Regions from separate parts of the Homo sapiens genome. Here all the other regions are linked to region 1. Evidence: fine-mapped expression QTL. A gene starts in region 1. Each other region holds a variant in brackets. All regions are shown on one strand. Distances are between the middles of the regions.

Evidence for each region.
Region 2: its variant is fine-mapped to the expression of ST3GAL1 in whole blood (GTEx, PIP 0.95).
Region 3: its variant is fine-mapped to the expression of ST3GAL1 in whole blood (INTERVAL, PIP 0.99).
Region 4: its variant is fine-mapped to the expression of ST3GAL1 in whole blood (TOPMed, PIP above 0.99).
Region 5: its variant is fine-mapped to the expression of ST3GAL1 in whole blood (TOPMed, PIP above 0.99).
Region 6: its variant is fine-mapped to the expression of ST3GAL1 in whole blood (INTERVAL, PIP 0.95).

What each region holds. Positions count from the first base shown.
Region 1 is chr8:133,569,285-133,573,867 of GRCh38, reverse strand. ST3GAL1 (ST3 beta-galactoside alpha-2,3-sialyltransferase 1) reads left to right here and starts at 1,981. Exons shown (of 10, transcript NM_173344.3): 1 at 1,981-2,175. ST3GAL1-DT (ST3GAL1 divergent transcript) reads right to left here and starts at 3,296. Exons shown (of 2, transcript NR_186509.1): 1 at 2,998-3,296; 2 at 12-2,810. RefSeq lists silencers at 1,232-1,291, 1,482-1,971 and enhancers at 3,762-3,981, 3,341-4,194, 4,152-4,221.
Region 2 is chr8:133,539,150-133,544,340 of GRCh38, reverse strand. The region is part of intron 2 of ST3GAL1 (ST3 beta-galactoside alpha-2,3-sialyltransferase 1); the gene reads left to right. Among named protein-coding and RNA genes, the nearest start is that of ST3GAL1-DT, 29 kb to the left of the region's middle. The variant G/C (reference allele first, on the strand shown) is at 2,739.
Region 3 is chr8:133,487,991-133,493,181 of GRCh38, reverse strand. All of the region lies in intron 3 of ST3GAL1 (ST3 beta-galactoside alpha-2,3-sialyltransferase 1), which reads left to right. Among named protein-coding and RNA genes, the nearest start is that of ST3GAL1-DT, 80 kb to the left of the region's middle. RefSeq lists enhancers at 1,895-2,440, 3,918-4,701. The variant C/T (reference allele first, on the strand shown) is at 2,305.
Region 4 is chr8:133,518,605-133,523,795 of GRCh38, reverse strand. All of the region lies in intron 2 of ST3GAL1 (ST3 beta-galactoside alpha-2,3-sialyltransferase 1), which reads left to right. Among named protein-coding and RNA genes, the nearest start is that of ST3GAL1-DT, 49 kb to the left of the region's middle. RefSeq lists an enhancer at 1-139. The variant T/C (reference allele first, on the strand shown) is at 2,277.
Region 5 is chr8:133,462,558-133,466,557 of GRCh38, reverse strand. ST3GAL1 (ST3 beta-galactoside alpha-2,3-sialyltransferase 1) reads left to right here. Exons shown (of 10, transcript NM_173344.3): 6 at 468-664; 7 at 1,601-1,780; 8 at 3,099-3,144. Among named protein-coding and RNA genes, the nearest start is that of ST3GAL1-DT, 110 kb to the left of the region's middle. The variant C/G (reference allele first, on the strand shown) is at 1,788.
Region 6 is chr8:133,476,980-133,482,170 of GRCh38, reverse strand. All of the region lies in intron 3 of ST3GAL1 (ST3 beta-galactoside alpha-2,3-sialyltransferase 1), which reads left to right. Among named protein-coding and RNA genes, the nearest start is that of ST3GAL1-DT, 91 kb to the left of the region's middle. The variant T/C (reference allele first, on the strand shown) is at 2,161.

The sequences.
Region 1 (4,583 bases):
CAACACTTTTGTTATTTCATCCAAAAACTCTTTATTGGCCCAGACGATATTCCCAGCCAAAGCTAAAAGTCTGGTGCATGTTAGAAGCTCTTCTTTGCTGGAAGACGCTGCTGGTGGAGGGGACAGTAGCCGATGTAAGCAGAACTCTCTGCCCCCCTCCTCCCATGCACACAAGCAATCTGGAGATGCAGTGAACACCTTGACCTGAGTTTCAGAAAGAGGAAAGCCCACAGGATGTGTCCAGGCAGACAAAAGGGCTCACCCCTTCTCTAGAATTCTATCAAAAACCAAGGGCGTCAGGCAAGAGGTCTCAGAGCAGGTCCCGAAGTACCTAAAAGGCTATTCATCTTTTCCTTCCCTTTCTAGTAGTTATTTTTCTCATTCTCTCTCCTCCCCCTTTTAAAAGCTGGTTTTTCTTCTACTTTTCTCATCTCTGAATATTTCTCCTTTTCTCTCCCAAGTCCCTGAAGTCTTCCCCAACACCCTAGCCCCCATCTTCTAGCACAGGTCATCTTCCTGCTGTGGGCAGGGACCTGACACTGGAGAAACCCACCATCTACACAGCTGACTTACTACATGTCAAAGACAGTTCTAAAGGTTCTATGTGTACGAATTCACTAACTCATCACAACAGCTTTATCAGACAGACACTTCTTAGGTCGGTTCTCACAGATGAGGACACCGAGGCACAGAGTCACCTAGGCTGGGAGGTTCAGTCACTAGCCCAAGCTCACACATCCGTTGAGTGGCAGTGCAGGATTTGAACCAAGAAGTCCGGCCATGCGGGCCCTGGCCTGAATCCCTGTACTACAGCAGCCGTCTGATGAAACAAAGGCTGGGGGACTCTCCCCTTCCACTGCAAAAGGTTGATCTCTCTCCAGCTGGAGCAAGGGGCGCTGGAAGGATGCAATGACCCCAAAGGCAAACTGTGCCTCTTTCCTCTAACATTCCTCCGAAAAGTTGCGAAAGAGGTAGTCTCAGTAAGGGGTTAAGAACCGTAAAACCAGATTTACATGACTTGTGTACTGCATTTAGCATCAAAGCGCTGCACTCTGCCTTTCAGCAAAAGAAGTCTCCACCGCCCCCGCTTCCCTGTAAAAGAGGGAGGGCTGAATAACTGCAAGCCTAATCCGCAAACCCCAAGCTCCAGCCGCAGCCTCCGCATCTGGAAGGAAAAAGCGGCGGCAGGCGAGCCAGGGCAAGGGCTGGGCCAGGGCCGGGGCCGGGACCAGGGCCGGCCGCAGTGCCCGGCTCTGTGGCTCTGAACGCGGTTCTGGCCGCAAGAGTCGTCCAGCCCACGCTCCTCCCTTCCCCCTCCCTAAATCCCACCTCGAGTCCCGCGCCCTTAGAGGAAGTGGGTGGCTCTGCCCGGTCGCCAGCAGGGGATCGGCCCCTTCTCCCCACCGTGCCCCCGACTCGAGTTCTTCTGGGCACTGCCATCCTCTCGGTGCGTGCCCGTCTTCCTGCTGAAACGGACCCCAGTGGCTCCCGGGCCTCCCGGGCGCTCTTCCTTAGCCCCGCCAGCTTGAGGGCCGCGTCCAGAGAGCGGGGAGCTCCTCTCGGGGCGCCGATCAGGTCCCCGCGCCGCAGCCGCCGCCTCCGGCGTCTCCCAGGCTCGGCCTCTGCCGAGCCCGCTGCGGTCCACGTGGCTTGGCAGAGCTAAATTCGGCTTGCAGGAAGCCCGGAGCCAAGGGAAAGCCGAGCCAAGTTGGGGTGGGCGGGGCCGAACGGAGGCGCAGAGTCGGGAGGGGCGGGCACTGGGCGGAGGAAGGGGAGGGCCGCGCGCAGGGGAGGCGGTGGCTGGGCTCTGGCGCGCCCTGGCACCCGGCCCCGGCCGGCCAGGGAAGGCGGCCCCTCCTCGGTCGCCCCGCCTTTCACTCCCGTTACACCCGGGGGAAGGTGTTCCCGAGCCCTCTCCCACCCTCATCCCGCCTCCTCGCTTCCTCGGCTCCAGCCTCCGCCGGCGGAGCCCACTATGCCAGACAGTTTCGACACTTTGCAAAGACAAAGAGCCCTAGACCGGAGGGAGGAGGAGGAGGAAGAAGAGCGGAGAGAGAAGGAAGAGGCGATGTGAGCTGGGAAGGGGGCAAGTGTCCGGGACACCCACACCCCTGTATTCTCCTCCGAACCCCTTCATGCCCAAATCCCGGAAACTCCAGCGTGTCTCCAGCCGTGGTGAGTGCGCGCGCGGAGGCGAACCCTGCTCGGGGTGCGCGGGGGCTGCGTCCGCCTGAGTTGGGGCTCGGGCAGTTTCCTGTGGATTCTCGGAGTGGAAGGTTGATTGTCTGGACCCGGGAACTGAAGGGGTGGGGAGGGGACTAGGAGGGTGTGACAGTGGAGCTGGGACTGAAGACCCCGGGATTCTAGTGGAAGACATTCGAAGGGAGACCCCTTCCTTGGCAGCGGCGACCACCCAGGGCTTTGGGAGAGGAAGAAGGTCGGGGTGGAGGTTCGGGCTTAGGGGTCTTCGGCCGACACTGGAGGAGCTGCCTGGAGCTCTGTGGGGAACCTACGCCAAGTCCCGGGCAGCGGTTCCCGAAAGCAGCCCCAGTGACATTGCACCCGGCGCCGGGCTGGGATCTCCTCCGCTGGGGCCGCCCGTGGGAGGAGACCTCGCTGGGTGGCCGGGCTCAGGCGCTCTCGAGCGGATTTGGGGTCACAGGCTGGGACACCGCGGAGGCCGCCAGTGTTCTGGACGAGCGGCCGTGGGACAGTATCCGGATCGAGTCCCCCAATCCGCTGCAAGCAGGCGCAGATCCGGGAGGTGGCTATCGGCCCCGGGGACGCCGTCAGAGCGCGCTGCTCCGGATCTGGGGGTGAAGTTGACACCCGGGACAAGAGAGCTGAACGCGGCGTGGCGGACAGTGGGGGACGCGGGTGGGCCAAGGAGAGCACGGCCGGAGTCGTGTTAGTGGCAACTCGAAACTCTGAATCCGCCCCAACCCCGTGAGGCGTCGCAGCTCCCAAGAAATAATCTGACAAAAGTTAGCAACTTGCCTGTGTCTCTCGTGTGTGTGACCTGCGTGGGGGCAGGGCCACCCCTTCTGGGAGCGCACGGGGACGGACAGCGGTGACCCTGGGGCGAGGCGCTCTGGTGAGGGTACAGTTAGTTTGGAATCGGGACGGTGGCGCAACTTTCCGCTCCTCCTTTCTCTGCGCGAGTGTTTAAGCGTGACCTTGCGGGAGGAAGCGCGGCTGAACTTGAGATGGGGGTTGAGCTTGCGCCCCGGCTTGGCACAGAGACGTCGGAGCGCGCATTAGCCTGGCCTTGCAGCCGGGTCTCCCAGGAAGCGTGTGGGGATCGTCTGGCTCTGCTCGTCAGCTGGAGCCCTGACTCGCTCCTCCCTCCTACGCTAGGGTCCTCGGCGGCCGTACCATGCGCGGGGCTCGGTGGTGTGTTGGGCGAGGGGACACGTGCGCACCCAGAAGCGCGCAAGGGGGTGGGGGTTGGGCAGGTCACTGCGTCTCGCGGGCTGGGCGAGTCCCGCAGAGGGAGTCAGCCGTGACCCTGAGGGCAGTGACTGGCTCGCCGCGTCCCTGCATCAGGCATTCGCCCGGCTTTCTCGTGATTGTTTCCGGGCACCCCTGGCCTCTCCCGACTTCTCCCCCTCGCGGGTCCCCAAGCCCCGCAAGTTTGCGACGAGCTGGTTCTCCAGGGAGACAGCGAGCGCCCACCCCCGCTCTGCGGCTGGGTGTGTGTGGTGAGAGGAAGAGACGGGAGGAGGAGGCGAGGCCGACTCGCCAACGAGGAAAACGGGGTGAGAGGGGAGCCGGGTTTTCCAATAGTCGCCAGGGCGCCTGGCACGTCGTAGGTGCTAACGCAGTGTTCATTGACAAGGCCCCAAGGTGGAAGGTGCTGGCAGGGGCCCGGACGCCCCCTTCTTCCCTTCCAGTCTCTAAAATGGAGTTCAAATGTATCGACCAAGCCCTTTAGGCTTCTAGACGTGCCTGGAGCACCTACTACGTGCGGGGGCTCTACTCCTGGCCTGTTCGTAGAAGCTGCGGGCGGAGCCTCCTGATTTTCTTTACCCCGCGCTGCCCAAGCGCCCAGAGGCTTCGAAAAGGCAAGGTGCACTGCCCCCTGCCGGCTGCTGTGGAAACTGCCGCTTGTCTCTGCGGTGGGGAAGGGGCGCCCAGTGCGGGGGTCCCTCAGTGCCTTCCCGCACCTCCCCTTCCTGCCCCAAACATTAGGACCCCTGCCGGCTGTTTTCTGAAATCCCATGGTTGGCTGAAATGACTGACTAGAGTTCACCACTCCGTGCCCCTCAGCCTCTGCCAATATCTGGGTACAGCGTGGGGCCTCTTCTAGTCTCCCGTCTCTCTGTCTCTGTCTCTCTTTGGTCGCCAGACTTAACCTCTCGGCGTCTCAGTTTCTATATCTGCAAAATGAGGCCAATAATACATTCTCCAAAATACGTTCTGCATAATTGCGAGTGGCGATAATACATATAATTAAGTGAATGTGTGTATGTATAGGTAGTTCATACTCTACATGTGTGTATGTGTATACCTTGACTTCAGGTCTAGGGAAAAAAGTTCCATCGTACACTTTTTGCTAAATAAAGAATGAATAGAGGGCTCCT
Region 2 (5,191 bases), 30 kb after region 1:
CCTTGGACCTGGAGCTAGCTCACCATCTTATGGGACAAGACTGGGGGCATGGCAGGAGGTTCTGCTTGGTGCATAAGCCAGTGCAAGTGGGAATAACAAGGGCTGATCATTGAGATGCACAGTTTGTATGGAAGGGACCCAAGAAGGAACAGAGAAGAGACTCTAGATGGCCTACAGGTCTGGGCAAAGGCCCCAGGTTTGGCATTTAGAAGTTGGGCTTTCTTATCGTTGGGTTACCCAAGCACAAGCAAGAACAAAGCAGAGACTCCACTGATGAGAAAAGATCCAATTGATATGTATTCTGCACATCTAGATTTGAAAATGGCCTCCTGCCTCTTTCTTTTGGTTGGTCTTCAAGCACCTCACCATTACAGAGGAGTGCTGTATGCATTTTAAGCAGGCATTTCTATAACAAACCTTCAAACAATGGAGTTTAACGCAGATATGAAGTAATTATAAGTAACACAAATAGTAGTATTAAATTTTTAGTTCTTTCTTACAATCAAGCATATCCAGAATGATGATGATGATGATGATGATGATGATGTTAACAGTGATAATATTTTTTGTCCATTCCCAGCTTATTATGTGCCAGGTGCATGTTCTACTGATAATTATTATTACTACTAATAATTATTATAGCTTTAAATTATTGGCACATACAATGCACTAAGTAATATATTGATTTTTTTCTCAATCTCATGAAACCAGAGCATTCGTTTCCATTTTTAATTTTTTTCAATTATTTTATTTTTATATAAATGCAAATTTATAGAAAAGTTATAAGAACAGCCAACAAATTCCTGGACCTCCTTCGTCCAGGTTTTCAAATGTTCGCATTTTATTATGTTCATTTTTTCTTTTTTCTCTATATTTTTTCCTGAAATCAGAAACTTGCATCTTAGAACACAACTTTCTAAGTCAGAAACTTAACATTAATTTGACTATTATCTAACCTTCTGATTTCTCATTCAGATTTCATCACTTGCCCCTGCTAAATTCCTTCAAGGCAAAAGAAAAGCCAGTTGGCATGTGTCTTTCTTGGAAAACTTTCTTAATCTTGTATTTCAGCACGTTAACCTTTTTGACAAGTTCAGGCCAGTTATTTGATAGAATGCACTCAATTTTGGCTTTTCTGATGTTTCCTCCTGATTAGGTTGGCAGGACTAGCCCAGAGCTGATGTGTCCTTTTCAGTGCATTGTATCAAGAGGCACTGGTGTGGCTGTCTCCCATTACTGGTGATGTTAGCTTGGAGCTCTCAGTTAAGGTGGTGTCTTCCAGGTGTCTCCACTGCAAAGTTATTGTTTCACCTTTGCAATTAATAAGCATCTCATGGGGAGAACTTCCGGGATTGTGTAGATTTCTGATTAGTCCTCAGTCTATCAGTCATTAGTTTTAGCATCTTTTGATGATTCTTGCCTGAATAGATTTATTATTATCATAGTTGCCAAATGGTGATTTTTTAAATTTTGCTGGTTCTTTTTCATTTATTAGTTGGTTTCCTACTATAAAGAAGAAATTTTCTTCCTCTGTTCATCTTTTTTTTTTTTTTTTTTTTTTGAGATGGAGGAGTTACTTTCACCCAGGCTGGAATGCAGTGGTGCAATCTTGATCTTTGCCCACTGCAACCTCTGTCTCCCAGGTTCAAGCAGTTTTCCTGCCTCAGCCTCCTGAGTATCTGGGATTATGGGCATGTACGACCATGCCCAGCTAATTTTTGTACTTTTAGTAGAGATGGGGTTTCATCATGTTGGCCAGGCTGGTCTCCAGCTCTTGACCTCAAGTGATCTGCCTGCCTTGGCCTCCCAAAGTTCTGGGAATACAGGCGTAAGCCACCATGCCCAGCCCTTCCTTTCTTTATATCAGTGTGGACTCACAGATTTTAACTTTATTCAATAGGTTGCAGTCTTTTGTGATCATTAGTTATTTTGACATTTACGTTGCCCCAAATCTGTCCACTAGGGCCTGGCTCCTGTGTCTCTAACATTTCTCCATCGTCATTTGAGCACTTGCTGCCTTGTTGTCATAGCAAGGTATTCTAGCCTCATCTTCTACTCTCCTCACCTCAGTGGTGGAATCAACATAGGAGCCCTGGTTCCTTTCCATGGAAAATGGTGTTTAGAAACCAAGATCTGGCCACTAGGTGTGCTCACTGTTTCTGGGGTAGCATTGCCTCTAGGCCCTCTGAGCAGACATAACTGGGATGTGTGTGTCTGTGTGTGCGTGGGTGTGTGTGTGTGTGTGTGGTGTATCACACAGATACCCACATTTATATACATACATAATCACATCCACATGTATATCCACACATCATTCAGATCATTTTCAAATTGACCTATCTATCTATTAAAATCACCATAGGTTCATACTAATTATGCTAGGACATTCTGGAAATTCATGTCTATCTGAATGATGCTGAACAGTCATTCTACTCTCACTATCAACGCCGCCACCAACTGCATTTATTAAACCGTGTTCAGGCCCAGTTTCAGACCCTTTCCCTTGCTGTTACTTCTGACATCAACTCGGTGGCCCAAGTACAGATGAGCAAACCAAGACTCTGAAAAGCTAATTAACTTGTGCAGATTATACAGCTGGTAAAGCAGCAAGCTTATAGCAAGCACCTGTTTGTCCCTCGGCTTTTGATCAAAAGGCCTAGGGAGAAACCTCTCTCAGGACAGAAACTAGAGCAGAAGACTGGGGAAGCATTTGTCCCTGCTGACAGCAGTGTCTGGCC[G/C]TCACAGTGTAGGCCAGCCAAAACATGTGGACCGTGTATATGGTCTGCATCTCTCAGATGGAGTCCTGTTAGGAGGTGTGTGTAGACGCACGTGGTGGTGTATGAGTTGCATGTGGGAGTGAGAGTTTCTGTGGGGGATGCAGGACTGCTGTCCTGTCCTTGTGAAGACCTTGATCAGGTTGAGGGTGTGATTACAGAACCAGGCGTCTCTGCAGAGGGAGCATTTGTTCTCTTGCAGAGTGCTTTCCTGGGAGAGCTGCTTCAGTGTGGAGGCCTTAACTTAAACACATTTGTGTCTCCAGCTCCCAGCAAACATGCAGAATGTGCACCAGATAAATGTTGGTTTCAGGCAGGCATTGACAAACATTTCTGAGCTTCTTCTGTGCCAGGCACTGCTCTAATCAGACAAAGATCCTAGCTAGGGGTGAGAAAGAGGGAGAGACACACAGTCTCTCTCTCTCTCTCTCTCTCTCTCTCTCTCTATATATATATATATATATATATATGTTTATATATATATGTCTATATATATGTCTATATATATATGTCTATATATATGTCTATATATGTCTATATATATGTCTGCATATATATGTCTATATATATATGTCTATATATATGTCTGCATATATATGTCTATATATATGTCTATATATATGTCTATATATGTCTATATATATATGTCTATATATATGTCTATATATATGTCTATATATATGTCTCTATATATATGTCTCTATATATATGTCTCTATATATATGTCTCTCTATATATATGTCTATATATATATGTCTCTCTATATATATGTCTATATATATATATGTCTCTATATATATATGTCTATATATATATATATGTCTATATATATATATATGTCTATATATATATATGTCTGTATATATATATATGGTGTGGGCAGGGGCAGGGGGTCCCAGGGCAGGGCATAGCATGGGTGTGGTGGTCAAGGAGTGTCTCTTCCAGGAAATGTTTCTAGAACAAAGTCACATGACGGACAGGAAAGAGCAAATAGGGAGGTGAGAAGGAGAGCAGGGGCTGTTGATCAAAGGATACACAGGGACTGATTCAGTCTTCTTCAGGGGGCTGTGGCTGCTGTCATTTCCCCTCAGAGAACCAGGCCTGTTTTCCTTCTGGGCAGTGTCACATGGGTGGACACTCCCCGTTGGAGCTAAAGCATTTCCTCCAACAACAAAAATGTGTTATCAGCTGGCCCAGAGACCGAATGCAGGCCAGGGCACTCTGACTAGATAAGAGGACAACCTGGCAGTCGTTCAATATTCCGATGGGCAGCAGCGAGGAGCTGTTGGAATTTCCGTTGCTGATAACCTTTAAGAGCAGCAGTGGCAGAAACAGGGGTTGTTTGGGGTGGGAGGGGAGAGGAGACTTGGGAGCACTCTGGAGTATCTGAAAGGCTGATGGGGAGAGAAGGATTAGCGGATTAATGTGTAGAGGGTGATTTTGAGGATGGATCCAAGTGGCGTGAGTGAAATGAAGAGCGGGGGAGCTTCTCATTCAGGCTGTTTTTCCTTTCTTCTTGTTCATTCAGTCATTTAGTAAATACTTACTGAGTGCCTTCCAGCTCACTGGCACTTGGCTGAGCACTGGAGGTAAAACAGAATAAGATGAGAGCTATGTCCTCAAGATGTTAATAACTTATTTGTTTCCTTGTTTTATTTACTTATTTATTTTGAGACAGAGTCTCACTCTGGTGCCCAGGCTGGAGTGCAGTTGTGCCATCACAACTCACTGCAGCCTTGACCTTCCAGGCTCAAGCGATCCTCCTGCCTCAGCCTCCTGAGTTGCTGGAATACGAGCGTGCGCCACCATGCCTGGCTAATTTTTATATTTTTTATAGAGATGGTGTTTTGCTGTGCCACTCAGGCTGGTCTGGAACTACTGGGCTCAAGCAATTCCCCAGCCTCAGCCTCCTAAAGCGTTGGGATTTCAGGTATGAGCCACCATAACTGGCCGATGATAATAATTTAATGGGAGAAAAAGATCAATTAATAAATCGGTGGTATGTTTAGGTGCAGTTCTGGTTCTTTGGGTCCTGAAGCTTATACAATTTGGGAGTTTTCTTTAAGGAAAAATAATGCAAAGTTATGACTTTGAAATAAAATGCAAGCCCTAGATAAGTGGGGTGCAGCCCAGGGGCTGGAGCGTCAGCTTCCTGGACGTGCTCTGGTTCTTTGCCCGCTTTGTGAGCTGCAGTGTCAGCGAGAGTGCCTTCTCTTACCTGCTGCCTGCCGGGTGAGCTGGCCACAAGGGGAGTTGGCGGTGGGAATCCTGGTGCTCCATGGTACAGTGAATTTACTTGCCTTCTGGATCCTCTGAGTCCTTGTGCTTGGGCTCAGGGAACAGGGCGAAAGAACTTCGTTCTTCTTGGTTCTGCTGGGATTTTCGAAGGCACTTTCCTTGAAGTTCTGCGGGCTGAC
Region 3 (5,191 bases), 81 kb after region 1:
AGGCCTTCTAATGATCAGCTGGGGACAGTGCGTCCAGTCCTCCCACCCCTGGGAGGTCCCGGAAAGGACTGCAGTGTGGGATGGGAGGCACACTCCCAGTGTTGGATGCCTACCTGGTGGCCAGCTCAGACAGAGCTGGGACAGAGCTGTCTCTAGCACCTCTGGCCATGAGGGTGTTTGGCCATTCCCAGCGGTCATTCGGCGTAGCTCAGTTTATCTCTCCTGCCAGAGTCGCCTCCTTATTGGACGGAGGGTGAGGAGCACTCGTGATCACTTTGTGGGGAGAGTGGGCAGAGTAGGGCTGAGTGGAGGTGAACTCCCCCTGCCGCATGGACGCTCCCCGAGGTGGGGTATGGGCGCCATCCAGAGAGACCAGCTGAGGCCGAAAGGTAGATTCTTAGCATGAAGAGCTGGGCCTCTGGAGCCGGGCTGTTTGGATCACCTTTTATCTTATTTTTTTGAGACAGAGTTTTGCTCTGTCACCCAGGCTGGAGTGCAGTGGTGCGATCTCAGCTCACTACAACCTCCACCTCCCAGGTTCAAGCAATTCTCATGCCTCAGCCTCCCCAGTATCTGGGATTACAGGCACATGCCACTACGCCCAGATAATTTTTGTATTTTCAGTAAAGACAGGGTTTCACCATGTTGGCCAGGCTGGTCTCGGAAATCCTGACCTCAAGTGATCCACCTGCTGCAGCCTCCCAAAGTGCTAGGATTACAGGCTTGAGCCACCACGCCTGGCCCCATTTCTTCACTTTGAAAGAGAACATACCACCCCTTGGTAAAGCTGTTGAGGTCAAACAAGCAACCTAAGAGAAGTGCTGACTTGGAGCCTGGCACAGAGTTGGTGCACTTTAGGGACAGGACCCAGTGCTTTCTTCCCCAGCCATCTCCAGGACTCATGAGCTGGGGGTGCACTTGGGGAGACATCAATACTAGTATCTCAGTCTCTCCATGGTCCACGCCTCCTGACCCCCAGGGACAGGCTCTGGGAATGCCTCCTGGTCAGAACTGGCCTCTGTTCTCCCACCTGCTTGCTGGGCCTCTGCTGGTCCAAGCTGCCCAGTGTCCCCTCGTATCGTCCATCCCGAGCCTCACCAGGGCTGCCAGGCCTCAGCTGCTCTGAGCATGCCCTGACCCCGTGGTGCCGATCCTTGCCCATATGCTCCGGCCACCCATGTTTTCGCTCCTCCCACTGGACAGCTTGGCAGCCCCTGGTCAAGAGGGCAAGGTCTCCCTCCTTTCCTGACTGCTGGGCCCTTTCTGATGAGAGCTACTCTTCCTCTCCTCTGGGGCCCAGGTATGGGGGTGGGGCTGAGCCTGGGCCAGGGCAGTTTAATCCTGTGATCCAACTGGACACCGTGACACCCCTCCAACCTTCAGTGTGTAGGGATGGGATGGTTCATGCGAAATGCCTGCTGTCGCCTGACGCTCCCACCCATCCCGGAACCCTGGAGGGTGCTGCATGCCTCGCCATTGTAGTAGCTGGGTTTATAACGTGATCTTAATCCCCATTAGGGACACTGCTAGAGGCTGCCCCTCAGCTCCTTCAGGCACCTCCTGGATGCCCCTGAAAATCAGTAGCATTAAAATATTTCCGTGAAGTCACGGACTAGGGAGAAAGGGGCCTCTTTAAGCCACGTGTCAGACTGTGAATCTCGGCTCCAGAGCGGCCACACCTCCAGCCCTTCCTTTATGCTGAGGGTTTTAGAACCAGCGACAGATGCCTGAGGGCAGGTGTAAGGGGCATTAGGAGCTCTGAATTGTCTCTTCTTTATCAGCCTCCAGCACCACCCAAATGGGGGGAAATCCTTTCTTCTGGGACAGGTGTGAGCCTGGGTGCGCGCATAGTGCAACCCCTGGAATTCCCAGCCACGTTACACGCTTCTAATGTCATTTGGCTATCCTAGGACTCCAAATGTAGCACTCCTCGATCCACACACATAAGAAGATTTGTGGATTTAAATTCTTTTTGTGAGGCTATGAATATGAAAACATATTCGCCTCCTTCTCATGTGACCCTAATCCTGGTTAATCGTGTTTCTCTGGGGCACTTCTCCACACTGCCTACTCTGAGCCACTATTTGTGCTTCAGCAGAATCTTTTTTTTCCCCGACTTCCCCAGCAAAGGAACAAGCAGGAGGCACTAAGGTGCAAAGAGGAAGATTTGCAAGCACATCGAAGGGTTCTCCCAACCTGCTGGCACTGCTGGGCTGTGGGGCAAATGGGCAGGCGCCGATGCAGAAAGGAGCAGGGAAACAGGCTCCAAAGGAAACGGACTTCCCAAGTCATGCTCATGGAGAC[C/T]GGGCCACTCTCTAGACTCCCACAGGGTGTCCTGTGCACCCCTCTCCAGTCCAGCCACGATGTGCCAGTTGCAATCACTACTGTCTGCTGCTCACAAGCCAGCCGGGCTCCCCTTTGCCTTCAGTCCCCAAGTCCACGTTCCTCAGGACTTCCACGATCCAGCTCCACCCACAGCAGCCCCTCTGAAGGGCGCCCTGTTTTCTGTAACATACCAGCGTCTCCATCATCACCACCATGTGCTTTTTTGGGCACAGGCCTGGTTTACCCTCCCCCTCTGCCCTCCTCCATCAGTGCTATGCCCCCTGTCTCCATGGCCACCTGCCTTACACAGCCTTCCCTCTCCCTTTGGTTGTCATTCACCTGCCACTTGTGGATCACTAAGGCCCTTGGCATCATGTCTTGGGAGGCACTGGTTCCTCCTGAGCAGATTTATGCGTGTGAACTGCCCTGGGCTAGATCCTGGAGCCGGCCTAGTGTGCGGCTTCGCTATCTAGCAGTGAAGATACGCATGCCGCCAGCTGTGTTCTTGAAGCATCGCAGGCATGCTTGGGTACCTGGGTGAGGTACGGCAGTGGAGCATGGAAGAGCAGGCTCAGGAATCGGCCCTCACCCCTTCCTAGCCATGTGACCTGGAGTAAGCCACTGATACCCAAGGGCCTCAGCATCCCCTTCTGTAAAATGGGATTATGGTGTCACCTCCCTCATAGGACCTGGAACTGCACTTTAGCTAGTCCCTAAAATACTGCGTAGTCTCTCAAAGCCCAACTTCCTTCTCTGCCCAAAGAGCAAATGCCTGCCCGAAGAGCCCCTGGGGACTTTCGCCAGGCATCCACACACAAGAAATGTATTAGCTATGGATGGGTCAGGCATGCACAGATAAGTTGGGGAGGGAGTGAGTTGGAGAGAAGGAGGGGCAGACCAGAGGCCACTAGATCTAGTTAGAGATATTCCATGGGCTTTTGTCTGCAGGCTTATCAAACAATGAGGATTCTTTGATATTTAAGCCCGGCAGGAGTCAGAGAACAACAGGAGAGGACCCAGCAGATCAAACTCCAAGAGGGGCCCAGGAGTGGGCGGTGGTCAAGCCACAGGCGCTGATTGGAGCAGCCATGGGCGGGCTAAGGGGACCTTGCCCTCTGGCTCTACTGGTGTTGACTACATTTCTATGGGAGGGACTGATGCTGTCATCAGGGAGCTTGGGGGACAGGCTTCTTGGAGTGTCCCCCTGGTGGGACCTGGAATGTGTTGAACTTGGCTGAGTGGTGCAAGGGATCCCCTGGTGCCATCCCTGCCAAAGACCCTATCAGTGTCATGAGCCTGAGGATGAAATCTCCCGATGGGTGAGTGCCCCAGCAGCAGTTGGAGCAGAGTTTGGGCAGATTCTAGCGAGAGCAGCTACCCAAGGTGGAGGGGAGGCCAGGGCTCAGGGCATCCAGCTGACCCACGTGCTTCTTGCAAATCCTCTGAGGTGGCCAGCGCCTCAGAGGGGTGTCCGGGGAGGGGCGGGAGGCATGGCTTTCTGTGGGGCACAGCTCCTGGGGCACTCATTGCTTAGACCACATTGTCAGCTGTGCCCCTTGGAGTTAGGTCTGCGGGGTCACCTGGACTGGTCATGGTGCTGGCAGGACACAAATGGTGCATTCAAAGTGGGCAGTGGAGGGGAGCTGAGTTGAAAGGTCATTCACAAGGTCATAGTGTGGTGTAGGAAACAGCAAGTGTGGTGCAGTCCCTGGGGCTGGAAATGGTGGGACTGTTTCCAACCCTAGGGCTGAAGGGACAAGAGGACATAGACTTACTGAGACCCCCAGGACACAGCTAATGTGTGGATGGGGTCATTTGACAGGAGCAAGGGACCATCAGCCCTTGGCTGTCCCACAGGGAGGGCGCCAAGGCAGTCACTGCCTGTCCCCAGTTCCCTCTCTCCCTCTGGCCTTCCTCCAGGGCTTCCTGTGGCTCCCAGGAGGTTGTCCAGACTTTAGGGGGGCCACCAGACCTTGCCTGGCCCCCCCTGTCTGCCAGTGCCGCTGCAGTCTTCCAATCCACTTGACTTTGTTTTCTTTCAGTTCGTTGGACTCACCTACTGTCCCCACAGGCCTTCATACCTGTAGCTTCCCCTGCCTGGGAGGCTCTCACACTCCCTGCCCAATCACCTGTCCACCCTGTGGACCCTCAGTCACTACCACTTCCCCCAGACATCAGCCAGTCCCTCTTACGCCCTCTGCTCGTGGCACTGAAGGCTGCCAGTCAGGGCTCTCCAGGGGAGCAGAGCCTATCCCATATTTGTGTATGCATATTAAGAGATTCAACTTTCGGAACTGGTTCAGGCAGTTGTGGAGGCTGCCAGGTTCAAAACCTGGTGGGCAGGCCAGAGGGCTGAAATCTCAGGCAGGACTTGACTTCTCTGTTACAATCTTAAGGCAGAATTTCTTCTTTTCCAGGGAACCTCAGTTTTTGCCCTTAAGGCCTTCAACCTATTGGATGAGGCCCACCTGCATTCATCTCCTTTACTTAAAGTTAACTGATTGGAGAGCTTAACCACATCTGCATGCTACCTTCCCTGAAATACCTAGACGAGTGTCTGACCAAACTACTGGACTCCATGGCCTAGCCAAGCTGGCTCATTACATTTATTTATTTACTTAGAGATAAGTCTCGCTCCCCCAGGCTGGAGTATGATCATAGCTCATTGCAGCCTTGAATTCCTGGACTCAAGTGATCCTCCTGCCTCAGCCTCCACATAGCTGGGATGACAGGGGCAAGCCACATGCCTGCTGATACATTAAATCTAACCATCACAGCTGGTCTTTTGTGTGATTCCTTAATAATCTCAGCCTCTGTCCCACCCTGTGATGTTGCTTTCAGTGAGCAAGGACGAAGATCATTCTAC
Region 4 (5,191 bases), 50 kb after region 1:
AGGACGAGGGATAGAGACCCTTGTGGCTCCCATACCCAGCCTTCTGCCAGTCCGTTTGTACTTGTTCTCCAGCAAGAAGCTCAACAGACATTTGTCAATTGGTCATAAATCTGGTACCTAGGAATGGTGCTGACCTCTTGCAGGCCTCCAGGGAGGTCCTGAGAGTCCCATGAGAGTCGACTTTGCTTTGTCACAGAGCAGGACAAGTGGCCATTCCATCTGCAATAAGACCCTTCTAAATGCTCTGCAGGAACTCCTGATGCATCCTTCCAGTGCCCCTTTGAAGTAGCTGCCACTTTAAGCATCACCATCTTCACTTTACAGAGGAGGAAATGAAGGCACAGGGAGGTTGAGTTACTTGCCTGAGGGTGCCCAGCAAAGTGGGCAGAGCCAGATTGAGGCTCAGGTGGTTTGGCTGTGGAATCTCTGTACTGCTTCTAAGGGTGGAGAAAGCAACAGCTGCACACCTTTGTGACTTGTGCTAGGACAGAGGTGTGCATGGGGGTGTGGCAGTGTCTGTGAATTGAGACCTGGACCCTCCAGTCTCCCATGTTCTCTGTGGTGTTTGGGAGATTAGCAACCCCCCACAGAAGAGTTAGGACCCACTTCCCCTGCTCCCAGAAGCCACGCAACTCCCCTCTCAGCAGGGCAGAAGGGAGAGGCCCCTTGCTGCTCGCCAGGGCCCTGGGCCAGGTGGGAGTGACAGAGCGCAGCCCCATCTGTTTGAAATTAGAAGTGAATTGAGCACAGTTGTCCAGAAACTCCATGAAGTTTAGAAACACCGTGCTGAATGTCTCCCCCAGCAAGGCTGTCTCTTCTTGAGAGATTTCATCCCTGTCTCTTCCCCACAGTGCTCATTTTCTTAGCACCTTCTCTGCCCTAGGCTCTAGGGACAGAGACAGTGAGATGAGCCCCTTCCCTCGCCTGGTGAGGGTGTTGGGAGCACACCAGGAGGCCAGAGAAGGATTGTACTCCAGGGAGGATAGTGGTGGCAAAATAACGACAGTAATTAGTGTGTCCATTTAGTGTGTGCTTGTGGAGTGTCACGTGCTTAACACTGTGCCCCTTAGGCCAGTGTTATGTTTGTCTTCAGTTTTTGGATGAAACCCAGGCTCTCAGGGGTTAACTAGCAAGACCCTGCGGCCACCAGGTGACTCTGCTGGATATGAACGTAGGCTTTTCTGTGCCAGCGCCTCAGCACCCTGGACCAGCTGGGGTACAGGGTAAAGTACTCTGAGAGTCAGATCAGAAGGCTTAAGGTCCCACTTACTGCTCTGCCCCACACAGGCTGTGTGGCCTCAGGCAAGTCAGTTGACCTCTCTGAGCCTCAGACCCTCAGCTATGACTTGGAATTGCAACACATTTCCAGAGGGGTAGAGATCAAACCACACTGTGCCTGTGATGGGGCTTTGAATTAAAGCAGGGAACCTTCTGTGCCTGGAGAGCCTCAGCATCTAGGGGCAGTGTCCTGAGCCACCATTCCAGGGAAGCCATTTGCAATTTTTTTTAGATTTTTAAAAAATGTTGCTGGGTCTGCGTTTTTCCACATCCTCTGAACTTTCCTTCCTGCTAGCTTTCTATATTGCTTCCTACTTTTTCTCTGCTTTGGGTATAAGCTTCTAGGAATAGAATTTTAAATCTTAGATGGCTTCCCCATTCTATATAGCTCTTGGGAGTGCTCACGTCAAAGACTTCTGGGAGGCTTTCTGCCCAGAGTTGGGCTGCTGGAGAAGATTATAAAGGCACCACCATTTTTAAGGTTTTTGTTTTGTTTTGTTTGGAAGTTTGGAAGTTTCATTCAGAAAAGTAACCCATGACCACTGAAACAAATCCTGAAAACAGAGAAAAGTATAAAAGCTCAAAACAGAAACAGAAAATCCTACAGAAACCACTCTCCCAGAAAGTACCTATCTTAGTAGTTCATACTGTTTTCTTTCACGGCATTTTGGTTCCTCTAGGTTAACATATACTAAAATTGGAATTATAATTCTGAAATGCTTTTCTCTTTTCGTTTCCAATTTAACAGTGTAGTAGATATTCCTCCGTGTTATTTAAAATTCTTCATGATCATTATTAATGATTGAAAACTTCTGTCCTGTAACAGATATTTTAACATATCATGGTTTAATTAATAATTTCCTTAATGTGGAGCATGCAGGAGGAGCTCTCTACATTTTGCTATTAAAAATAACATGATAGGCCTGGGGGCGGTGTTTCACGCCTGTAATTCCAGCACTTTGGGAGGCCGAGGTGGGTGGATCACGAGGTCAGGAGTT[T/C]GAGACGAGCCTGGCCAAGATAATGAAACCCCGTCTCTAATAAAAATACAAAAATTAGCTGGGCACGGTGGCAGGCGCCTGTAATCCCAGCTACTCAGGAGGCTGAGGCAGGAGAATTGCTTGAACCCAAGAGATGGAGGTTACAGTGAGCGGAGATCACGCCACTGCACTCTAGCCTGGGCAATAGAGCAAGATTCCGTCTCAAAAAACCCCCAAAAATTAGCTGGGTGTGGTGGCACACACCTGTAATCCCAGCTACTTGGGAGGCTGAGGCAGGAAAATTGCTTGAACCCAGGAAGCGGAGGTTGCAGTGAGCCAAGATTGCACCACTGCACTCTAGCCTGGGCAACAGAGCAAGACTGTCTCAAAAAAAAAAAAAAACAACCCACAAAAACAAAAATTAGCTGGGTGTGGTGGTGCACACCTGTAATCCCAGCTACTTGGGAGGCTGAGGCAGGAAAATTGCTTGAACCCAGGAAGCGGAGGTTGCAGTGAGCCAAGATTGCACCACTGCACTCTAGCCTGGGCAACAGAGCAAGACTGTCTCAAAAAAAAAAAAAAACAACCCACAAAAACAAAAATTAGCTGGGTGTGGTGGTGCACACCTGTAATCCCAGCTACTCAGGAGGCTGAGGCACAAGAATTGCCTGAACCTGGGAGGCAGAGGTTGCAGTGAGCTGGAATCGCACCATAGCACTTTAGCCTGGACGACAAAGTGAGACTCTGTCAAAAAAAAAAAAAAAAAACCCACAAAAAATAACATGATAAACATCTTTGGGCACAAAACTGCACATTGAGCCATTTCCTGGAATAGACTCCGAAAAGGGGAATTACGTATGCAGTAGAAGGAAAGAGCACTTTTTGAGGCTTTTGATACCTCAAGCAAATGTCCTTTTGTTCTAGACTGGAGGCTATGGTGGGGTGGGCTGCCAGAGACCCTGCTTCCCTGCAGGGGATTCATGTTTCTGCTGAACAGGGGTCCAAACCCATGAGCTCCTGGCTCAGGAAAGGTCCTAGGTGGGCCCATACCCAACAGCTTTTCACAGTGACTTGTGAGAAGCTCTAGGAGTCCTGATGATCTAAATTGTTTCAGTTGAAAGTGGAACAACTAGGAGCATTTTGAAGGCAGAAGTGTCAAGACGCAGAAACTTCTGTGGTGCCAGAAGAGGGGGCTGCCTCCAGCAAGATGGAATTCACCACGGAATATATACCAAGCAGCGTGTGGGCAGGTGTTGTGCACACCACACCCCGCTGCGAGTTGTCCCCGGCTCCAGCCTCTCTATGTTCCTCCCTATCAGCTGACCTCTACACACTCATTTCTTTGCATAGTCTCTGCCTCCCCTAGAATTTCAGCTCCCTTCATCTGTTTTGTTCCCTGCTGTAGACTTAGCCCCCACAAACGTTACCTGGCCCATTGCAGCTGCTCAGTAAATATGCGTGGGCTGAAAGAATGATGAGTGGGGAAGATTGTAAAGACCTGCACAGAGGTCCCAAAATATGATGCTTGTAAGTAAGAATCCTTGCCCGCATTCCTTTACTGGGTTCTTTTTGTTTATTTTGTTTTGTTTTTGAGACAGAGTCTCACTCTTTCACTCAGGCTGGAGCACAGTGGTGCAATCTCAGCTCATTGCAGCTTCTGCCTCCCAGGTTCAAGCAATTCTTATGCCTCAGCCTCCCAAGTAGCTAGGATTACAGACAAGTGCTATCATGCCCCGCTAATGTTTGTATTTTTTTTTAGTAGACATGGGGTTTCACTATGTTGGCCAGGTTGGTCTCAAACTCCTGACTTCAAGTGATCCACCCACCTCAGCCTCCCAAAGTGCTGGGATTACAGGCGTGCGCTCCCGAGCCCGGCCTCCTTTACTGAGTTCTTAATGTGTGCCTGGCATGTATCTCTCGGACACTTCCCAGGTAATTCTGTTATGGATAAGGTGACTACTGTCATCCCATTTATTTCCTGACTCATGCCAGCTTGACATTATAATAAAGCATTTCCCCCATGCTATTTTAAATTCTTTGTGAGCCATAATTTATCTTCCTTTAACATACATAAGAACATTCTGGAATTTGCTCAGTAGCTTGCACAGCTCTAGTATTTACCCAGGAATGGAATTGCTGGGGCCTAGGGTGTGCCTGTGTGTAACCTGCCTCTGTACCTCCAGGTACGTCCTTGCACCTGTACCTCCATTAGCTAGTGTGGCTAATGAGTCCACACTTTCACTCACAGGGCATGAGGCATGAGTGTCTGCACATGCCTGCTAACACTTGGCATCACTGTGCCTTCTTGGCATCACAGTGTCTTCTAATTTTTGCCAGGCTAGTAGGTGTCAAAGATGTCTTATTCTGTTTTTATTTGCATTTCTGATTGCTAATGAGGCCCTAGACCTTCATGCCTGCCCTGCCTGCCCTCACCAGGCCCCTCTGTCCTCCCTTTCCCTACCCTACCCTGACCTCCATGTCTCTTCTGCTTACCCTTCAGAATTTAACATAGACAGACGTTTGCACCTCCGAGGGGCTCTAATCTCAGGCCTCCTCTCTTCCCTCCACGGGCTGCCCTTGTCAATAGCAGCCTGAGGTCGTGTTTACAGATTCTCCTCCAGAGCCTTGCACTGCTGGGATCAGAGTCTGCTCCAGCACCTACAGGCTCTGTGGCCTTAACCAAGGGCCTTAATCTCTCTGAGCCTCAGATCCTTACTTGCAAGCTGGGGATTAAAAATAGCACCTCCTAGAAGACTTTTCTTGAGAATTAGGTGGGATAATTTATTCAAAGTGTTTGGCGCATAGTACTGCTGAGCAAATGTAGCTTTTGGGTTTTAGAGTCCTTGCAGTCCTTGCTTGTCACTATGTTTACCTGACCAGCCTCCAAGCCTAGGGAGTCCTCCTGGGTGGGGCTGTGTTTGCTGCATTTTTGTATT
Region 5 (4,000 bases), 110 kb after region 1:
TGGTGTCTGAGCAGGGTGGGAGTAAGACACAGCTAGAAGGCTTCTGCTATTTTTCTCTCTTTCAAGTGGTGACACGTAGGGGGATGGAGGGCCTTTCAGAGAGACAGGAGCCCCCAGGGAGGAGCAGGTTGGAGAAACGCTGATCACATGTGGAGTGGGAGGGGCCTGTGAGTCCAGGTGTGGCTGGATCACCCAAGCGGCTTCAGCAGTGCCTGGCACATGGTAGGTGCTCAGTAAACACTTGCAGAATACATGAATGCTCTCTTTACTTCCTGAGTAACCCTTAGTCTCCTTGAAGGAGGAAGTGGAGGTGTCTGTGTGTGAGCCGCCTCCATCTCCGGGGGCCCAGCAGAGAGAAGGGTGAACAGGAGGGCCCCAGTAAACGACAGCAGGTAGCTCAGGGGCTCTGCTGCCAGGAGGCTGGAGCCACAAAGCCAGGTTGACCACCTTCTGTCCTCCGCCCACAGAGGCTCCAGCGGGAGAAGAAGCCCAATAACTTGAATGACACCATCAAGGAGCTGTTCAGAGTGGTGCCTGGGAATGTGGACCCTATGCTGGAGAAGAGGTCGGTGGGCTGCCGGCGCTGCGCCGTTGTGGGCAACTCGGGCAACCTGAGGGAGTCTTCTTATGGGCCTGAGATAGACAGTCACGACTTTGTCCTCAGGTGAGTGCCAGACCCTCTCCCAAGCCTACCGTGCTGCACCCAGGGGCCCCTTGGAGCTGTAGGAAGCATCTTGGCTCAGGCTCAGGAAGGCAAGGTTCAGTCCTGGGACTGAACTTACCCAGGGACCCCAGGCTCCACACTGCACCCCCTGGGCCTCAGCTTCCCCATCTCTGCATCATTGCAGGATTGGAATGGACTAGAAGGGCCTCTGCGTGCAGAGAGGAAGCCATACACGGGAGGTCCCCCGTTGTTGGGAGCTTGGCACATGGAGGCCTGGGGAGAGGGCAAAATTAATGTGAGGACTCTTATCTTTAAAATTCATCCCCATTTTGTAATCTAGGCCATAATAAAACCACATATTTTATGTAAAATATATTTTCCCCTGTCGCCAAGTGAAACAGACATTTCAGGAAGATGCCCCAAGTCTGTCCTGGGTCTCCTGCCATTCCCACTATACCACTCACAAGTGTTCCACGCTGAGAAGTGCAGGGGTGGGGGCTGGCCATCCCCAGCAGCCTTCTAGAATAGTCTCTCCTGTCTGTGATTCCTGACTTTAGTCCTTAGACCACTTACCTGCCTCTCAGAGCCTCAGTGTACCAGGTGTCCCATGGGTACATCCATGGTAAGGATCAGAGTCAGGTTTCCTTGACTGCAAAAAAAGGGCTGTGGAAATATCCTTTGGATGAGATTGTCTGTGACAGGCGGGCAGTGGTGGTGATGGCTAGACTCCCTTGAGGTCATGAAAGAGAGAAAAATAGCAGAAGCCTTCCAGCTATGTCTTCATTGTCTCTATTTTACAGATGAGGAGAAGGAGGCCCGGGGAAGGCAGGTGACACCCCTGAAGTCACACTGGAGGCTCACTCTCTCGGAGCTCTCAGGCTGTCTGAGAACGGGTGCCCGTGCTACAAGACTCAGCTTTCTCCCCTTCTCTCCCAGGATGAACAAGGCGCCCACGGCAGGGTTTGAAGCTGATGTTGGGACCAAGACCACCCACCATCTGGTGTACCCTGAGAGCTTCCGGGAGCTGGGAGATAATGTCAGCATGATCCTGGTGCCCTTCAAGACCATCGACTTGGAGTGGGTGGTGAGCGCCATCACCACGGGCACCATTTCCCAGTGAGTC[C/G]CTCCTGTGGCCCCGCCTCGCTGCTCTGCCCCTTGCAGTGGCACCCTGTCCCCCCACCCTGCCGTGGTCCTGCTGTGCCTCCACCGGGGTGCCTCCCCTCCCCCAGCCTCCTCCGGCACACACAAGCCCAGTTCCCGTGGCCGCCTCCCCGACTACTCCAACTCTTCTCTCCCTATCACTTAACAAACCACAAGCTTTAGTGTCCTCTTGCTAACAATTCCTGAAGGGACCTCCACGCGCCCTGGAGACTCTATGGGAAGGGGCCGCCACTAGAAAGGGTCAGCCCATGTGAGTTCAGCCTCCCTTTATTTCTGAAGTGCAGCCTGACAAATAACAACACCTTATTTTTCAAACTTATGTGAGCGTGGCAGGGTGAGGGTTCCTAAGAAATGAGGAGTGGGGAGTGCAGGTGCAGCCTGGGCCCCTCCCCAGGGCAAGCAGTGCTGAGCAACGCGGCTGTGGCTTCCCTGACAATCAGGAGCTTAGTTTCCTGAGCAGACACCGCACGTGGCACTCGGCACATATTATCTCAATGAATCCTCACAATAGCCATTATCATTAGCTCCTCCCAGTGAGGACTCTGGAGCTCGGCCAAGCACCTTGCCTAGGGTTGAACTCGACACAGAGCCTGTGCTGTCATCTGACCCTTACTGAAGGGAAGTGTTTTGATGTCCAGGTTTCCACAAGCTGTCTGTCTTCTGCCAGGTTTTCTAGGAACAGAGCTAGCCCCCGGATGTGGGTGCAGGAGACTGTGGAGCTGTGCCCTCAGGAGACCGGGAGTGAGGGAGGCAGACCGGGGCGGGGTGGGGTGGGGTGGGACCCAGGTCCAGAAGTGGCTCAGCTGCAGTCTCTCTGGGAGCAGGAATCACACCCGTGGGACCAGCTTTGGCACCTTTGCACTCAGGGTGCATGCAACCGCCCAGGTGAGAAAGGGGCAGCCGCGGGCCTCACCAGCCAGTGCCCCAGCAGCTGGGCAAAGGTGCTCTGGCCCTGAGAGGTGGAGGCACCACGGCCCCACTCCACTCCTTAAGGCTGTGCTTGGAGCAAGTCCTCCTCACCTTTTTGGGGAATGGGGCCAAAACCCAGCAGAATGTCCTCAAATTAGGAAAGGCCGTCCTCTGGTGTCTATTGGGGCTTGCTGTGGGCAGAAACCCGGCTGGGGTAGGGAGGTGGGGGTCCCTGAGGGAAGCTATGGGGGGCAGGAGAGGCTATGCCTGCTTCATTATCTAGCCACTACCCCCAGAGCTGCATGCCCAGGTTCCTGGGCCTGTCCCCTGCCCCATTAACCAGCTTCTCTTTCTCCAACTGCAGCACCTACATCCCGGTTCCTGCAAAGATCAGAGTGAAACAGGATAAGGTGAGTGGAGGCCCCGGCCCCTCTGTTCTAAGTTCAGGCTTCCTCATCTAAGGCTCTGCTCTAAGGTACGGCATTGAGTTGCAAGACAGCCCCCAGATCCCCAGGCCGCTGGAGGTAGCATCTCCCACTTAGCTATCCCCCTGGGGGAAGAGGTCAAACACTGGGAGAGATTCTCAAAGTGGGGTCCCCCGGGCCAGCAGCATCACCCGGGAGTTTGTCACAGATGGACATCCTCAGGCCCATCTCGAACCTACTGAATCAGAAACCCTGGCTGCCCCGCATTCTGGTTTTAACACATTCTCCGGGGACCCCTGTGCTTGCTGCGGTTTGTGAATTACTCTCAAAGCCAGGCTGCACCTCCTGCTTCTCCATCTCTTTCCATGTCTCCATCTTCCCCAGCAGGCCCCTGGCATGGGGCTGGCCAAGAGATGGGCAAAGGGCAGAAGAAGGAGGGAAGTGAGGTACCCACCACACTGGCCTTTTGCATACTCTATCAAACTTAGATAGGCTCGGAGAGGTCAGGAAACTTGCCCAGAGACACACAGCTAGTTCTGGATAAGGCTAGAATTGAAGACTCCCCGTGCCTCCAGCATCTTGCCCTTTGCATTGGGTTGTGCTGCCTCAGGGAAGAAGCCACTTATGTGTCTCTATAGGGTGGGGTTGGTGGAAGGGACAGCCTCCTAGAGATGGTAGGAGGCCACACTGAGAGGTGAATGGTTTACCAGAGACCCACAGAATCCACCCTTCCAGTCCATTCCTAGGGGCTGGAGTTTGGCTTTCTGGACGTGCACGCCCTCTCCTGCCTGAGAATTCCCTTTCGTTGTGCTCAAGGCAGGCTTTGGGTGGTGGAATCAAG
Region 6 (5,191 bases), 92 kb after region 1:
ACCCCCCAAGAGAAAGGAAATAAGTTGGGAGAAACCCAATATTCCCTGCTCATTTTCTGCACGAGGTATGTGCTGATTTTTGCAGAGGGTTCAGAGGACGAGCAGAGAGCAGCAGTTCAGAGTGTTTGGCAGTCTCGCAAGGTGGGGAAACAAAACAGAGATAGGTAGGTAGGTAGAGGGAGTCAGTGAGTTCAGGACTGCTAGGTCAACCAAAACCCAAGGAACCAAGAACCTAGAGCAAAAACAACCACAAAGAAAAGAACATGTGCTCTGTGCCTTCTAAAATTTTCCTTTCAAGGCATTTGCCAGCACTTAAGTTTCATGGGTCCAGAGTCTAAGAAACCAAGCAGAAAACAGCAGATGAAAAGCTAAAAAGACTGGGCATGGTGGCTCATGCCTATAATCCCAGCACTTTGGGAGGCCGAGGTGGGTGGATCGCCTGAGGTCGAGAGTTCGAGACCAGCCTGACCAACATGGAGAAACCTCGTCTCTACTAAAAATACAAAAATTAGCCAGGCATGGTGGCATGTGCCCATAGTCCCAGCTACTTAGGAGGCTGAGGCAGGAGAATCACTTGAACCCAGGAGGTGGAGGTAATAGTGAGCCAAGATCAGGCCACTGCACTCCAGCCTGGGCGACAGAGTAAGACTCTATCTCAAAACCAAAAACACAACAACAACAATGACAACAACAAAAAAACCCAAACAAACAAAAAAGAAAGGCTAAAAAGTTAAGCTTACGGTGATCTCATAGTACAGGGGAGACAGAAATTGGAGATAGGAGCCTGTAAGGAAGAGTCACCCTGATAAGCATCTTGGTTTACCTGTTGAGAACGGCTATGCCCCAGGGGTAAGAGTAAACCAGAAATAGACCAGTCTTCATGAAAAGTGAAACACAGCTGCAGTTAGAACAAAGTAATGTGCCACTTCTGTACCTGCTCATCAGGAGACAACCGGTCCTCTCTGAAGGAGGACAGCCTCATCCAGAGCCTCTGCATTTTTGTCATACACAATACAAACAGCAACCAGGCCTGCCAAGGACAGAACCAAATAACCAAAGAAAGAAAGAGCAACCGAGAAAATAGACAATAGAAATACACCCACATTATCCAAGTATCACAGGATATCCAATGTGGGCTTTAAGACGGCTGTGGTGAATAAAATTGCACAAAGATAGATGACAAGGTGGAGAAATTCACCAGCAAAGTAGAACCTGTCAAAAAATTAGGTAGAAATTCCAGAACTAAAAGACACCACTGAAATGAAGAACTGAATTCATAATTCAAATAGAGTAGGCACAGCAAGAAGGGGGAGTAAACAAGGCTGGAAAGATGACAGTAAACCAAGTCCAAAGAAGTTATCAGAAAGGGAATGGGGAAGATAGGGAAGATAAGAGCAGGTATTGATGGAATTGAATGATGAGCCACGGCTACACAGAAAGCCACAGGAGAAGGCAGGAGTCTGCCTTTGCTACCATTTTGCTGTGTGACCTTGGATAAGTCACTTGCCTTCTCTGGGTTTTAGTTTTTCATTTCAGGGAGACAAGCGTAAGGGTTACCCACCTCTCCTGGTGGCTTGGGGATCACATGAGGAAAGTTGTGGCCACTCTGTATTGAAAGCGTCAATTTTGCCAACAGCCTGCACAGTTCGCTCAGGCATTTCTCTAGTGACCATAGTGCCAGGGGCTGTGTGAAGGGCTGGGAGGGCATCCCAGCCTGTGATGGGTATTTACTACCATCCCGTTCAGTGGGTATTTACTACAGGTTCAAAACCCCGTGTGGTTCCTTCATTTGTGTTTCCAGGAGTTTCACACAGTTCTCTCAGTCTCTGGTCATTGCCCCTCAACTCCCTATTGCCAGAGGAGTTTATCTTCATTAGGGACTCTCCTTAGGGAAATTCTTACTTTTCAGTCCCCAAAAGTGTGCTGACATTTGTCAGTCTTGTGCTGGTGACCCCGCTAAGCTCTGTTGTGTGCAGGTGCTTCATGCCTCCTCGTATTGAGCATGTGGCTGGGAAATGACTGCCATTTGGCAGAGGACAGGGAGCCAGCTTCCCTCCTTCCCCATCCTTCCCTGCTCCCTCTCTTCTTTCTCCTTGTTCTGGGGGGCCCGGCCTCCCTCACCGCACACTTGACATGCAGAGATCTTTGGTCTGTGGCGTC[T/C]TGGCCCAGATGTCATTTCCGGGAGCCAGGGCTGGCATTCCCCCATGCCTGCAGGCTGCCCCACGCTTGCTAGAGCACGGAGAAGACATGCAGTCCTGGTTTCTTCCCTGCAGCCAGGGAAGGGGTATAGCGGTGTTCTTGCTTTTCCATTGCAGTTTTATCCAGGGCTTTGGAAAGCGCTAAATGATACCAGCTCAGAAGCCTCTGATGGTTATGGGGAGTGCCCTGGCCTTGGAGGTGTGGCTGCAGGATGCCCCAGAGGAGAGGAGGCTGTCACAGTCCCACAACCTGTGCAGCACAACCTTGCCCTCTGCCCTGCCTCTCACGCCATCCCTAGCAGCAGCCTAGAGCATTAATATCTCTCACGCAGAGGCAGGACATTGTAGGAAACCTGACCTCTCATCCAGAGCCTTGTTTGATCAACACGGATCAACAGTCATCTGTTTCAGGGAACTCATCTCTGCCCTGGCATTAGGGGTGCAGAGGCACTAAGGGCAAGGGTGTCCTAGGCCCTGCTCATTATAAAGGCAAATGTAGTAAGACCATGGCATTCCTCTGCTCAGCCCCACCAGCAGGTTTCTATGTCACCCAGAGAAAACTTAGTCTTGACTGTGGCTTCTCTGGCCCAACACACTCTCACCCCAGCTGCATGCTCAGATTCCCCCTCACCCCCCACCCACTCCTCTCCTCCACACTGTGTCTGATCCAGCCATACAGGCCTCCTTTGCTCCACAGGGTCTGGGGCCCTATTGATGCCTGGGAGGCGCCTACCTTAGATCCTTTTACGATGCACCCCAGCCACCTTGTCCAGGGCCTGGAGAACGCAAGGACCAGCAAATATGCAGTCAATGAATGAGATGAATGGACAACCTTGATGGGCTGACGGCCCCGAGAAATGAGCAGAATTTGTGTTATCAATCCGTTTTTCCCATTGAAGGGATGGTTCGGAAGGGCTAGGTGACTTGTTCATGGTCACGCAGTGAGTAGTGTGGGACAGGCTGCTGAGAATGGAAATGTGACTCAGAGTCTGTGCTTTCTTTCTCAGTTCTCCCTCTGGACTGTTGGCCGTTTTGTTTCCCTTCATTCATTTCTGGGTTTCTTCATGACCCAAGCCTCCACTGAGCATTGAGTGTGTGCACGGGTGACAGGGTCACTGCCATAGTGAGGCTGAGTTTCCATCCTCACATTGCTCCCAGTCCAGGGAGGAGACATATGTGTGAAGAGCACAGACAGAGTGCAGCCAGGACCCTAGGGAGCCAGGAGAGGCCCCTAACTCACCCCAGGAGAGGGCAGGGCTTCCTCCAGGAGTCAGCACCAGCTGAGCCCTAGAGAATGAGTAAGAGCCATCGGCAAAGCAGGGTGGGGTGGTTTTCTGGACAGTGGGGACAGCCTGAGCAGGGACACGGAGGTAGGAGCAACTGTGACCTCTGGGTCAGTCACATTGCTTCAAGTTACAAATAACCTACTTTACCCCATAAAGGGGATTTATTCCCTCATGTAACTGAAAAGTCAAGGTGAGGGTGGGGCTGCAGGTTGAGCAGGATCAGGGATTTAGCACCATTTGTTCGGGTTGTTCAGCTCTAGTCTCTTCTACACACGCTAGCAAAATAGCCAGCAGGATGTTCCACATGTCAACAACAAGCCAGCCAGAGCAAAAGAAAGTTTCTTCCCTCCCTACAGAAGCTTGGCTGGATGAATTAAGGCACATGCCCATCCCTGGATCAATTACTGGGGTAAGAGGTGGGAACCCTCTGCCAGTCAAGTGAATTGTGAGCCTATCTGTGATGATGCAGAAGTTATTCTTACTTAAATTACAGAGCTGCTCCTTGATGGGGGCAGGTGGGGAGAGAATTGGATGGGATACCTGTGGACACCACTAGGTTATAAACAAAATCTAGGTTGTCATGAAAAGTGAAAACTGGAGCAGAGACCGGATAAAAATGACGTTGCCAACTGAGCTGCAGAGCTCAGACCTTGTCCTCCATACGTTGGGCTTCTAGTTCTGGAAGCTGTAGAGGGTTGCACCCTATGCATCTTGGGCCCTGGATGTCTTCAGAAGGGCACTGTGGATTTAATATGGTTTTGGAGCTGTCCCCCTTTCTACCAAAAGGTGATCAATCTCCTTTCAACTCTAATTTTCCTGGAAAAAAATATACCCTGCTTATTGACAATCTACACCTTGAGAATGGGGAGGAATCGATCAGATTTCTTCCATTCTTCAGCATTCCAAGCAAAGACCAAAAAGACCACGCTCCAGGGCAGACGTGCAACCACAGTTGTACCATACAGAAATCCCAAGGTGTCGGTGAGAGCCAGAGGGGTCTCCGATGGGCATTTGAGAGGTACCTGTTTGCCTTCTTCAAAAGAATACTCCCCCCTTGCTCTATATCCCTCCAGCCGTAGTAATCTGAAGACCAGTTAACAAGACAGGTGTCTGCTCCAGGGTAGAGCCCCCCAACCCCCTGTTCCTGGTCCCCCAACCCCTCCCGATGTAAGGAATCAGAGGACTGTGGATTTGGACTCGGATCCTGCTCCTTCCTTTCCTTAGGCAAGTCATCTAAGCACTTTGAGTCTCAGTTTCTTCCAAGACAAAAAGGGAAACTAATATCTAGCTGACAGTATATTCTGAGGATTATCTGAAGAGATACGTATGCATGAATATCTCATCCTCTCAGCTCTTAGTGGATCATCAGAGAATATTGATTCATTCACATGTTGAAGAAGAAAAATTAAAGTTCAGCAATGGCCTAATAGATACCAGAAGCCCAGCATACATCATTTTATCTTATCTTCATAACCATTCTATAAGTAGGGGTGTTAGTATCCCACTTTGCAGAAGAAGAAACTGAGGGTCAGGAAGGTCAAATAACTTTCCCAAGGCTCCACAGCTGGGAAATCAGAACTTGAACCTGGACCATCTAAAGCCCCTTTTTATGGAACTGAGGCCAATTGGCAGAGCTTGAATGCCCAGGTAAAAGGAACCCTGGGCCACTCTCTAAGCATACCATTGTTGTTGTGCTTGTTGCTGAAA